Linked DNA regions of Homo sapiens. The protein of the gene in region 1 purifies or fractionates together with the protein of each later gene. This does not show direct contact. Each region holds a gene or a part of one and is shown on either strand. Other genes may lie near its edges.

The links.
Region 2: the proteins of PCDH9 (region 1) and TNKS purify together in Homo sapiens (affinity purification with mass spectrometry; one large-scale study listed by BioGRID and IntAct). This does not show direct contact.
Region 3: the proteins of PCDH9 (region 1) and IKBIP purify together in Homo sapiens (affinity purification with mass spectrometry, with the first as the bait; one large-scale study listed by BioGRID). This does not show direct contact.

The regions. Positions count from the first base shown.
Region 1 is NC_000013.11:66,625,297-66,628,954, forward strand, and holds part of PCDH9 (protocadherin-9 isoform 1 precursor), read right to left. Parts: intron 1-3,658.
Region 2 is NC_000008.11:9,558,912-9,562,569, forward strand, and holds part of TNKS (poly [ADP-ribose] polymerase tankyrase-1), read left to right. Parts: intron 1-3,658.
Region 3 is NC_000012.12:98,634,638-98,638,295, forward strand, and holds part of IKBIP (inhibitor of nuclear factor kappa-B kinase-interacting protein), read right to left. Parts: intron 1-3,658. UniProt on the Homo sapiens protein: Target of p53/TP53 with pro-apoptotic function.

The DNA.
Region 1 (3,658 bases):
TAGGTCACCATTAGAGGTTTTTAGGGTACAACATCATTCTGTAAGTTGATATTCAAATCAAATATGTATATTGCATTTCCTGTAAGAACGGTATTTCAGGCTAGTCAATAATTAGTGGAGGGAAGTTCTTCACATATGTTCTTTAAAACCACTTGGCAAAAAAGAAATAATCTCTTTTTCATATCTATCCACTGTACATTTAAATTGAATGCTGATGTAATCGTTTTATCAATAAACACAAATATAATTTTACACAATTATTTTTGATAATAACTTTGAAATGTTAATATATGTTGGGTTTTTTTTTCATATATACATATATGTATTCCTTTGCCTACTCCACTTTTGGCCAACATATAGTGGAATTTTTTTTTTTTTTTTTGATACACAGTCTCACTCTGTCACCCAGGCTGTAGTGCTGTGGTGCCATCTTGGCTCACTGCAATTTCCACCTCCTGGGTTCAAGTGATTCTAGTGCCTCAGCCTCCTGAGTAGCTGGGATTACAGGCACGCACCACCACACCTGGCTCATTTTTTTTGTATTTTTAGTAGAAACAGGGTTTCACCGTGTTGGCCAGGCTGGTCTTGAACTCCTGACCTCAAATGATCTGTCCTCCTCAGCCTCCCAAAGTGCTGTGATTAAAGATGTGAGCCATGGCACCTGGCCTATATGTTGGCTTTATAATTCATTGATTAGATGAGGATGAGATAGGATGGAGAACAGTAGGAAAGTAGTTAATTTGCAAAGTTGTACAGCTATCATGAGATTTTTTTTTCTTGTTGCTGAGGCAAAAAGAAAATAGAGGAGTTGTGCTTTTGAGGAAAAAAATATCAAGAAAATCATTGGGAGTCTTTGATCCTAGACGTTAAATACATTCAGTCAACCCGGTTGGGAAGAAGAAAGAAGTGAGAGGGGAGGGAATATAAAGAGGATAGATTCTGTGCCATGTTTGTTGAGCAGAACTCAGAGAAACCTAGAGGATAAAGACTAGAAAGTCCTTGAGGCTAGATTACATCGTAGAGTCCAGGGAGTCAGGAAGATCCCTAAAAGTAATGATCCATGCTGTCCATCTAGACATGGGAGTCCAAAGATAAACTCACTGAAACCTATTTACCTTCCCTATGGCATGAGGTATCAGCAATTTCCCAAAGAGTCCAGGAGGACTGGAATGAAGGCAGTCTCATTTGAGACCCCTCTAGGCAGATGAGACAATGGACATATAAGCAGACCAATGACCCAGGGTTGAGAATATTGCACTTCCTTTTGATGATAACGATCCTCTGGAATTGAGGTAAAAAAAGAACCGAAGTTTCTGTCATACCAATGCAATAGGAATTAGACATTTTTAAAAAATGGAAGAAAAAAAAGAAAGCTCTGTTTCCAGCACAAAAAAATTAGTGACATATGTGTCATACCTTATGTAGTAGAGACTGCTTTAGATTTACATAAACATTATTTACACAAAACCTATCAATTATTGCTTAATTTGCAAACAATTTGTTTTTGGCATTGCATGTAAAGACTATCATCATTTACTTATTGTTTTAATCAAGAGTTAGATATAATATAAAATCGATAATACTAATAACCCAGAAGTATAAACTTGGGAATAAAGAATACTATTGTAGGCCAGTATTATTAGATCAAATGCCACTGTGTGTGTGTGTGTGTGTGTGTGTGTGTGTGTGTGTTTAGAAGCAATAACCTATATTAAAGCCTGAAGTTTACAAAAATGTCTCCACATGATACTACCATTTGTATTAATTTCTTTGAAAAAATACCTACTGGAAATAGTTACTATAGAAATTAGTACCAGCTCTCAGTGACTTTTTTTATATGAACCATATTTGAAAAAACAGAAATCTAGATAAGTACAATCGAAATTACTTAGTACTTCTACAGATCATACTGACATCCAATAGAAACCTATTTTACCTGCTATAAAATCACAACTCTTCGGGAACTATCAAAGCCCGGTCAACAAATTCCACTGAATTCAAAGGGGACAATAGAGAACTAAATAGCAAAATTATTGCTAGAGATGATTACTTCATCAATATCACTGTACCTCACTTCACAAATTTCTCAAAGTTAATTACCAAAAATGTGACTGCAAAATTTAAAGGTAATATGTAATAATTCTATCCTAATATGAATGAACATTCAGTCTGACTCTCTTAATATTTCTAGGCCATTCTAATTAATTCTGCTCTAGACATTTACAAAGGAGGTTTAAATTTTATGTCCCATTAAACATCAAGAGAACTGCTGGCCTCTAGGGGCTCCCAGGGCCTCTCGCTTCTCCACTTTCTCTTTTCTCCCCTTCCCAATGATGAACAAGGCACTGTCACAACCTAAGAGCCCTGCTCTCTCCAGTTTAAAGACGTTTTAGTGATCATTATTCTTGTGAGTGACGTCACTGTGCTGGGTGAATGTTGGGCTGCCCAAGGTTGTGCTGTCCATTGGGTGTCTTTTTCCATGTGACTAGATTGGTAAAAACTCTAGAGATTTCTTGAAGCTAGTTTGAAAGGTTTTCGTTTGTTTGCTTTTATTTTCCTGGTTTAGGACCTCTGCTATCTTTTTCCATTTGGCACCTGGCCCATTGCCACTGCCTAGGTCGAAGTCACTGGGTAAATTGTTATATGTATTGGACAATATTTTGGCCTGGGGCAGCTTAGTTTAAGCATACTTTAAAAGCTAGGAAAAATATATTTTTTTCTTTTCCCTTTTCTATGATTGGAAAACTCAAATGTGGGCTTTCTTAAGTGTGGGCTTAGGAGAAAGCAGACCCGTATTGGTAAAAATTATTTTCTAGCCGAAAAAACAAAGATAAATACAAAACAAAACTTGTCTGTCCATTTGGTCTAGATATTTGGTCTAGATGAACTTACCAACCATCAACAACCTGCTACTTTTATCTCATTCATGTTTTATTTTTTTCTTTCTTGAACATATATTTCTCTTAGAGACTTCAGACTCTTAGACTGTGTTAGGCTCTGATTAAAGTATTCAAAGGATCCCTGAATCTCCGGACAAATAAACAGACAAACAAAAAATGAAATGAAATATTACCACATGATTCTTTTTAACAATAAATTTCTCATAATAACTTTATACATTTGCCTTTAATTTAGAATTTACTATTTCTAAAAACTAAGCTAGAAAACATAAACCAAATTTTTATTGTAATACATATTTTTTGAGACACACCCACACTTGAGGAAAAGGTGGTCTTGCTCTGTTTCCCAGGCTGGAGTGCAGTTGAGTGATTATAGCTCACTGCTGCCCAGACTCCTGGTCTCAAGTGAACCTCTTGCCTTAGCCTCCCCAGTAACTGGGACTACAAGCATGTGCTTCCATGCCAAGCTGTAATACATATTTAAGTGAGCCTTTGCACATAAGCCTAAGTTTTGCTTTTCTTCAAATAGATTTTCAGTAATGCATTATTTCTTATAAGAGTCAACAAATTTTTCATTTTTGTGCATATATATTGCTGCTATGATAGTGAAGGTATATATAACATAATTTTGCAATTTTTCCTGTACTCAGATACTTCTCAGTTGGCCCTGGCTAAAAGACAAAAAATTCTATGACAAATAAAATATATAACTCTCATTTTATCCTTATAGCTATTAAATTTGAAAAGCTGCCTTTGCT
Region 2 (3,658 bases), on another chromosome or scaffold:
TGTATAGGCTGAGAAATGAAAAAAATTATCAGTTGACTGGTTATTATGATAGTAATTGAATTGTCACGGAATAGCTGTTTTAAAGATGAGAAATTGGTACAATCCCTTGGATGGAAAAATTTAAAAACTGCAGTTTATTTGTTCCAGAAATATTTTAGTGTGCTTAGATGATCGGGTGTTAAATACTGACACAATTGTGTAATGGCAAGCAGCCCTTAACCCTTATGGAGCTTACAGTCTAGTGGGGAAGCATAAACAACAACAACAACAAAAACCTATAAAGTATCTAGTGTCTAATCTAGAGTGATAGGAAACGTATATTATACTGTCTGTCCCAATATGTAATAGGAGCTCTTATCCTTGTTTTAGAGCAGTTAAGGAAGTCTTTGTAGGTAGATTTTTTTAAAGCAGGAATTAAAAGGGTGAGCCCAAGCTAGCCAAGCAAAGGTTGGAAGGGACGATGTTAACTAATGCTTTTATTTATTTTTAAAAATGAGTTTACAGTTCTATAGAATGAAATGAAACAATTTTTTTTTCTTTCCAACTTTTAGGTTCAGGGATTACATGTGCAGGTTTGTTACATGGGTAAATTGTGAATCTTGGGGGCTTTAGTGTACAGATTATTTCATCACCTAGGCAATGAGCATAGTAGCAGATAGGTAGTTTTTTGATTTTCAGCCTCCCCCATCCCTACCCTCCACCCTTAAGTAAGCCCCAGTGTGTATTCTTCCCTTGTCTGTGTCCATGTGTACTCAAGGTTTAGCTCCCACTTACTTAAGTGAGAACATGTGGTATTTGGAAATCATTTTTAAAGATCTCAGATGTGGTATGAAACCATATTTAAATCCTTATCACTTTATTTATATTACCTTAAGAATAATCATATTCTTTCCAGCAGTAAAATTAAGAATCCTTTGTATCCTATCTTGGATTGTGATAATTTGTTTAGAATATGGTTTAGAGACTGTGTTAATAATGGAATCATCCTATCTGCAGTTAAGACAAAATCTTGTTTCCATTGTTGATACAGGTTCTCAAAATACTATTTTTGATGCCTTTGTAAGATGGCTTTGTAAAGATGAGCCATTCTTTTATTGTTGACTAGAATTTATATGAGACTTTTTCTTCTACAGATGTGGTCCTTGACCCTGGTTTTCTATTATTTAAAGTATAGCAGTCAAAATAGTTTTATAAATAGTACCAATTTAGAGTGATACCTCCTTAGGATGGTTTCTAGTAGTGACATATTTTTGTTAAAGGACCCATATATTCTGAAGACGTCTCTTTTTATAGAAAAGTTTAAATGAGGTCTTTTTTTTATTAAGGCCTTAGTAAAACATTAAATTCTGAGATTTTATAGTATTTACATGAAATTGAAGAAATCTTGAAATGGGCTTCCTGTTAGTTAACATATACGACTTGGATTATGATAGGTAATGTGAGGTATTTTAAAATAAAAACTAGTTTTCTTTGTTGGGTTTTGTTTTTAATGGTATCTACTACAATACATATTTAACAGTACAGAGATTTTTCAACTCATTCCTGACTCTTCTCTAGATTTTTCAGCATGGCCATACTTGTCTTTTTTTTTTTTTTTTTTTTTTTTTTTTTTCATTTCTCGCCTTTGTACAAATGTCGTTCCTGTTAATAATAGAAGTCACCATATACTCTAGATTGTTGCCTATCAGTGGGTAATAAAATGAGTCAGAATGCTGCAGTCTTGGAGTGGGAATTATCTTACACTTCTCGTTGCCTGGCAAGATCCTTTATATTACTTGTAAGCAAATGCCCTGTCTGAGGATGTAAGAAGGGTCTAATTTGGTAATAGAAGAAAGGGACCTAGTTTCATAAATATCTTCCCAGACTTAAAATTGTTGATTATAAACTGGATTACCTTTTACTTAGTGTTTTCTTAAAACCTTAACACTTTTCTGAAGGTACCTCTTTAAAAAAAAAAGTTTACAGAGAACTTTTAGTTAGAAAGATGTGCAAAGTGTCTCTTTCTTTTACCTCAATGATACTGCTCTTTGGAAGCAAATGATTTAAAGAACAAATTAGCCATTTATAAGATGATATGTAAATTTATTGCTAATAGCAAAAAATTTGTAACAAGCCAACTGTTCAACAATAGAGAAATGCTTACATAAATTATAATACTGTACAATTTCTATTACATGTGTATTCCTACATATATGTTCTTTTATCCGTCAATCATCTTTTTATTAAAGCATGTGAGTGTAAATAGTAGGCATCTGTGCAGCTTCTCCAAATATGCTAATTTGCATATCATTATCTAAGTTCAGTATTTGTGTAAAGATTTATCTTTTAGTGTGAAATCTGTGCAAATCTTATGTGTACATTCACTGAGTTTTGACAAATGCAGATACATGTGTAACTGAACTTATGACTTTCCTTATAGAAACTTCAGAAAGTTCCCTCATACCCCTTATCTCAATCTTGTCACTACCCCTTTTCCCTCAGGCAACCACCATTCTGATGTTTTTTCCACTATAGAATAAGAGTTGCCTGTTTTAGAATTTCATATAAATGCAGTCATACAATATTTAGTCTTTCTGTAAGACTTATTTTGCTCAGCATGTTTTTGATTTTGTAACGTGTATCAGTAGTTTCTTTTTACTGCTGAGTAGATTTCATTATATGAATATGCTGCAGTTTGTGTATCCCTTCAATTGATAGACCCTTAAGCTGATTCCTGTTTTGGCTATTATGAATAAAGTCGCAATGAACATTCTTATAAAATCCTTTTTGTGGACACGGATTTTCTTTCTCTTGGGCAAATACCTAGTATTAGAATCTCTGGGTCTTAGGGTAGGTAAATGTCCGGTTTTATAAGAAACTGCCAACACCTTTCCCCAAAGTATATGTACCATTTTACATTCCCATCAACGATTTTTGATGGTTGCTGTTTGATTTTGCTCTTGTTGCCCAGGCTGTCGTATAATGGTGCGATCTTGGCTCACTGCAACCTCTGCCTCCTCGGTTCAAGCGATTCTCCTGCCTCAGCCTCCTGAGTAGCTGGGATTACAGGCGCCCACCACCACGCCCAGCTAATTTTTGTATTTTTAGTAGAGACGGGGTTTCACCATGTTGACCAGGCTGGTCACGAACTCCTGACCTCAGGTGTTCCATCCACCTCAGTCTCCCAAAGTGCTGGGATTACAGGAGTGACCCACCACGCCTGGCCTTATATATCTTTTATGAAGTTTTGTCCTTTTTTTTTCTACTGGGCACACTTCAGTTTTATTCAGTTTTGTTGGGTTATCTTTTATTATTAAGTTTAAGAGTACTTTATATATTCTGCATACTAGTGCTTTGTGGGATAAATGTGCTAATATTTTCTCCCAGGCTATGAATTACTGATTAATTTTCTTAATGAGAGTCATTTGAATAGAAATTTTAAATTTAATTTATATATTTATTTTATGGTTATTGCTTTCTCTGACTCATCACCTGGATAAGAACTTTTATCTGGCCCCAAGTCATAGAAGTTCTCATACATATCCTATGAAAATCTTTATGATTTTAGCTACATTTTATCAGATGTGACTATATCCACTTCAGTATTCTTATGCTGTGTGTGGCATTTTTCTATTCATTCACTTTCAATCAATCTGCCTTTATATTTAAAGTGTGTCTA
Region 3 (3,658 bases), on another chromosome or scaffold:
GATCCTCTTACTTCAACCTCCCAAATAGCTAGGACTGTCCATCTCGCTATGTTGCCAAAGGTGGTCTTTAGCCTTTTTTTTTTTTTTTTTGAGATGGAGTCTCACTCTGTCGCCCAGGCTGGAGTGCAGTGGCGCGATCTAGGCTCACTGCAAGCTCCGCCTCCTGGGTTCACGCTATTCTCCTGCCTCAGCCTCCCGAGTAGCTACGACTACAGGCGCCTGCCACCACGCCTGGCTAATTTTTTGTATTTTTAGTAAAGACGGGGTTTCACTGTGTTAGCCAGGATGCTCTCGATCTCCTGACCTTGTGATCCACCTGCCTTGGCCTCCCAAAGTGCTGGGATTACAGGCGTGAGCCACCACGCCCGGTATTTTTTTTTTTTTTTAGATGGAGTTTTGCTCTTGTTGCCCAGGCTGGAGTGCAATGGCACGATCTCGGTTCACTGCAACCTTTGCCTCCTGGGTTCAAGCGATTCTCCTCCTCAGCCTCCCAAGTAGCTGGGATTAAAGGCACCTGCCACCACGCCCCACCAATTTTTTAATATTTTTAGTAGAGATGGGGTTTCACCATGTTGGCTAGGCTGGTTTTGAACTCCTGACCAGTGATCTGCCCGCCTTGGCCTCCCAAAGTGCTAGGATTACAGGCATGAGCCACTGTGCCCAGCCCCAAGGTGGTCTTGAATTCCTGGCCTCAAGTGATCCTCCCCTCAGCCTCCCAAAGCGCTGGGATTACAAGTGTGGGTCAACATGTCCAGCCTAGATGCAGCTTTTATCAGTTTCTTTTGACAGATTTTCATGTGGTAGGTACTGGTTTAACTCATGCAAAGATGAGTAAAGCACTGCCCTTGTTCACAATTCACAGCCCACCAAATAAGATGGTGTGATATCTGTAATAGATGCATGCACAAGAAATATTTTAGAGGAGGACAAAGTGAAAAATTTAGAACAAGATCTTTGATCTCTACTGTTTTTCACAAGGCCATGATTGGGTAATATCTAGAAAATAGGTGTTTTTATGCTGAAATGTAGGCGAAACAAGAGTCGTCTATAAAAAGTATTTTAAAACTGAAATGTAGAAGAGTTGACTGATAAAAAGCAGTGGAGTAGAAGAGAGAAGTGATAGTAATTAGAAGTTGCAAAATAGCAGGAGGTGTGAAAAGAGGTATGAAAATAGAAAAAAGCCATTGCCAAAGTGACAATAGATCACAATCAGTGCAGAGTGTATAAACTGCACAATTGGTTATACTCAGTGATGTGACTCGTATAGGTGTACTTGAGATGTCACTCTAAAATTGGAGTTTATTCTTCATTATGGGTGGAAGCCCAAAAAGCTATCTCAATCTTCAAAACAACAAATCAACATCTGTTTATACAGGATTTGAAATGAGCAAGCATAAAAGAATTGTCTTGGATCCAATACCATTTTGTCTACTTTAACTCAATTCTTTAGGCTCAGAAAAAAACACTTGAAATTCTTTGCATATTGAGTCATCAAAACGCAATGGAGCAGAACCATAAGTACCTGCCTAAACACAGTCCTGAGACAAGTGGTTCAAAAGCTTTGCTACATATTGTAATAACCTGGCAGCTTTAACAAATCTGATGCCTGGGTCTCACAAAGATTCTGATTTAATTGGCTTGGGATGTGGCTTGGATGTTGGAAACTCAACAGCTTCTCAGGTAATCTAAGTGCACAGCCAAACTTAGAACCATACTGACTGACCATGTTTTGTGAAATTCATTTCCACTGAAAGGCAATCATTTAAAGATCCCAAGGATTAATGGAGAGGTGAAAGACTTTTCTGAGTAAATGCAGTTATCTGAACTTTGTGCATCCTTGCAAAAGTGGTAATGCTTTGAATTCATAAATGGCATCATTAGGCTAACCGTAGCTACAAAACTGTCCAAAGCTAAATTAGACAAATGTTTACAATACTGGAGGAAATACATTTCTTTTGATGATGCTGGCTAATTTCTATTATACGGGATCCCAGGTTACATTATTAGCACAGATTGACTTTTCTCCTGTGTTTAAATTAATAGGAACCTTTAAAGCTTCTGGTTATTAGAAAACACTATTATCCTAATTCTCTGAGATGGAAGGGTGAACATAATTCTTTTTTCATTGGCTGTTTCATTTCTGGCTTTTAGGATTTTTTTTTTTTCCCCCAGAGTATTGGATATCTAAGACCAGCAGATAGAGACCTTATTAAGAAAGAGACCACCCTAAAGAAATAAGAGTTGCCCTCCTCACGCCTTCCTGTCCCTCCCTGCCAGGGGGGAAAAAAAAAAAGTAAAAGAAGAAACACAGTTCATTTCAGGGACTAGTTTTATTATCCAATACTCCACCATAGATCTATACTATAGATTAGCGAGTTTATTCAGAATGAAATCATTATTATAAGAGACTTTCGTATGAAGGTTGATTCATTACAAAAAATACATTAATGAACTTTCTCAGAACTTCTTTTCAAATTCAAGCTTTAAACACAACCTGTGTCATGTTAGTGGAAATATCATCTCTGATAATTAGTAGTTTTTTTTGATTAGCCTCTTACTAAAATAAAAAAAAATTCATCCTTGCTACATGTGAACGGTGCATATAAGAAAAAAGTACAAAGCTGACTCAGCACTAGTGATGAAAAAAATGAAGTGATATGTGCTGTGCTGCGTTAAAATATATTTTATTTTTCCCTTATTTGTGCCAGACACTATTCTAAGTACTTGATAAATATTAATTCATTTAACATTAAAGAAGATGATTGATTTTTCTTTCTTTTTGTTTTTTTTGAGATGGAGTCTCACTCTGTCACCAGGCTGGAGTGCAGTGGCACGATTTTGGCTTACTGCAACCTCTGCCTCCCGAGTTCAAGTGATTCTCTTGCCTCAGCCTCCCGAGTAGCTGGGACTACAGGCGTGTGCCAACACACCCAGCTAATTTTTGTATTTTTAGTAGAGATGGGGTTTCACCATGTTGGCCAGAATGGTCTCGATCTCTTGACCTCATGTTCCGCCTGCCTCAGCCTCCCAAAGTGCTGGGATTACAGGCGTGAGCCACCGCGCCCGGCTTTTTTCTTTCTTTCCTTTTTTTGAGACAGGGTCTCGCTCTGCTGCCTAGGCTGGAGTGCAGTGGCATGATCTTGGCTAACTGCAACCTCCACCTCCCAGGTTCAAGTGATTACAGGCGTGAGCCACCGCACCCAGCCTAGATGACTGATTTTCTAGAAGTCAAGAAAATATGCTGAGAAAGCTGCTTCAGATCTGAAAAACTAAGCTTTCAAACTGGCATCCATGTTAGGGTATAAGGTCCTTTATTTCCTTTTTATGAGTCAGGGGCATATTCTAGTGAGAGCAGTTCCCAGTCTTCCCATTTAGATGAGAGTGAAAAACAAGCAATTAGGGTCTGCTAAAGGGTATACCTTCAAGTAGAAGGAAGAAAAGAACTATAAGTAATTCTGGACTTGGGGATTTCTATTTCTAGGATCTTGGCCTTTTGTTGGGGATTAATATCGAATGGAGGCAACGAATCATACTGATTAGGTGGGTGACTGGACTGCCTTAGCTCTGCCATTTACTAAGCTGTATAACCACTTTGGGCAAGTTAAATAACTTTGATGTTTCCTCATCTGTGAAGTGGGGATAATACCTTATTTTAATC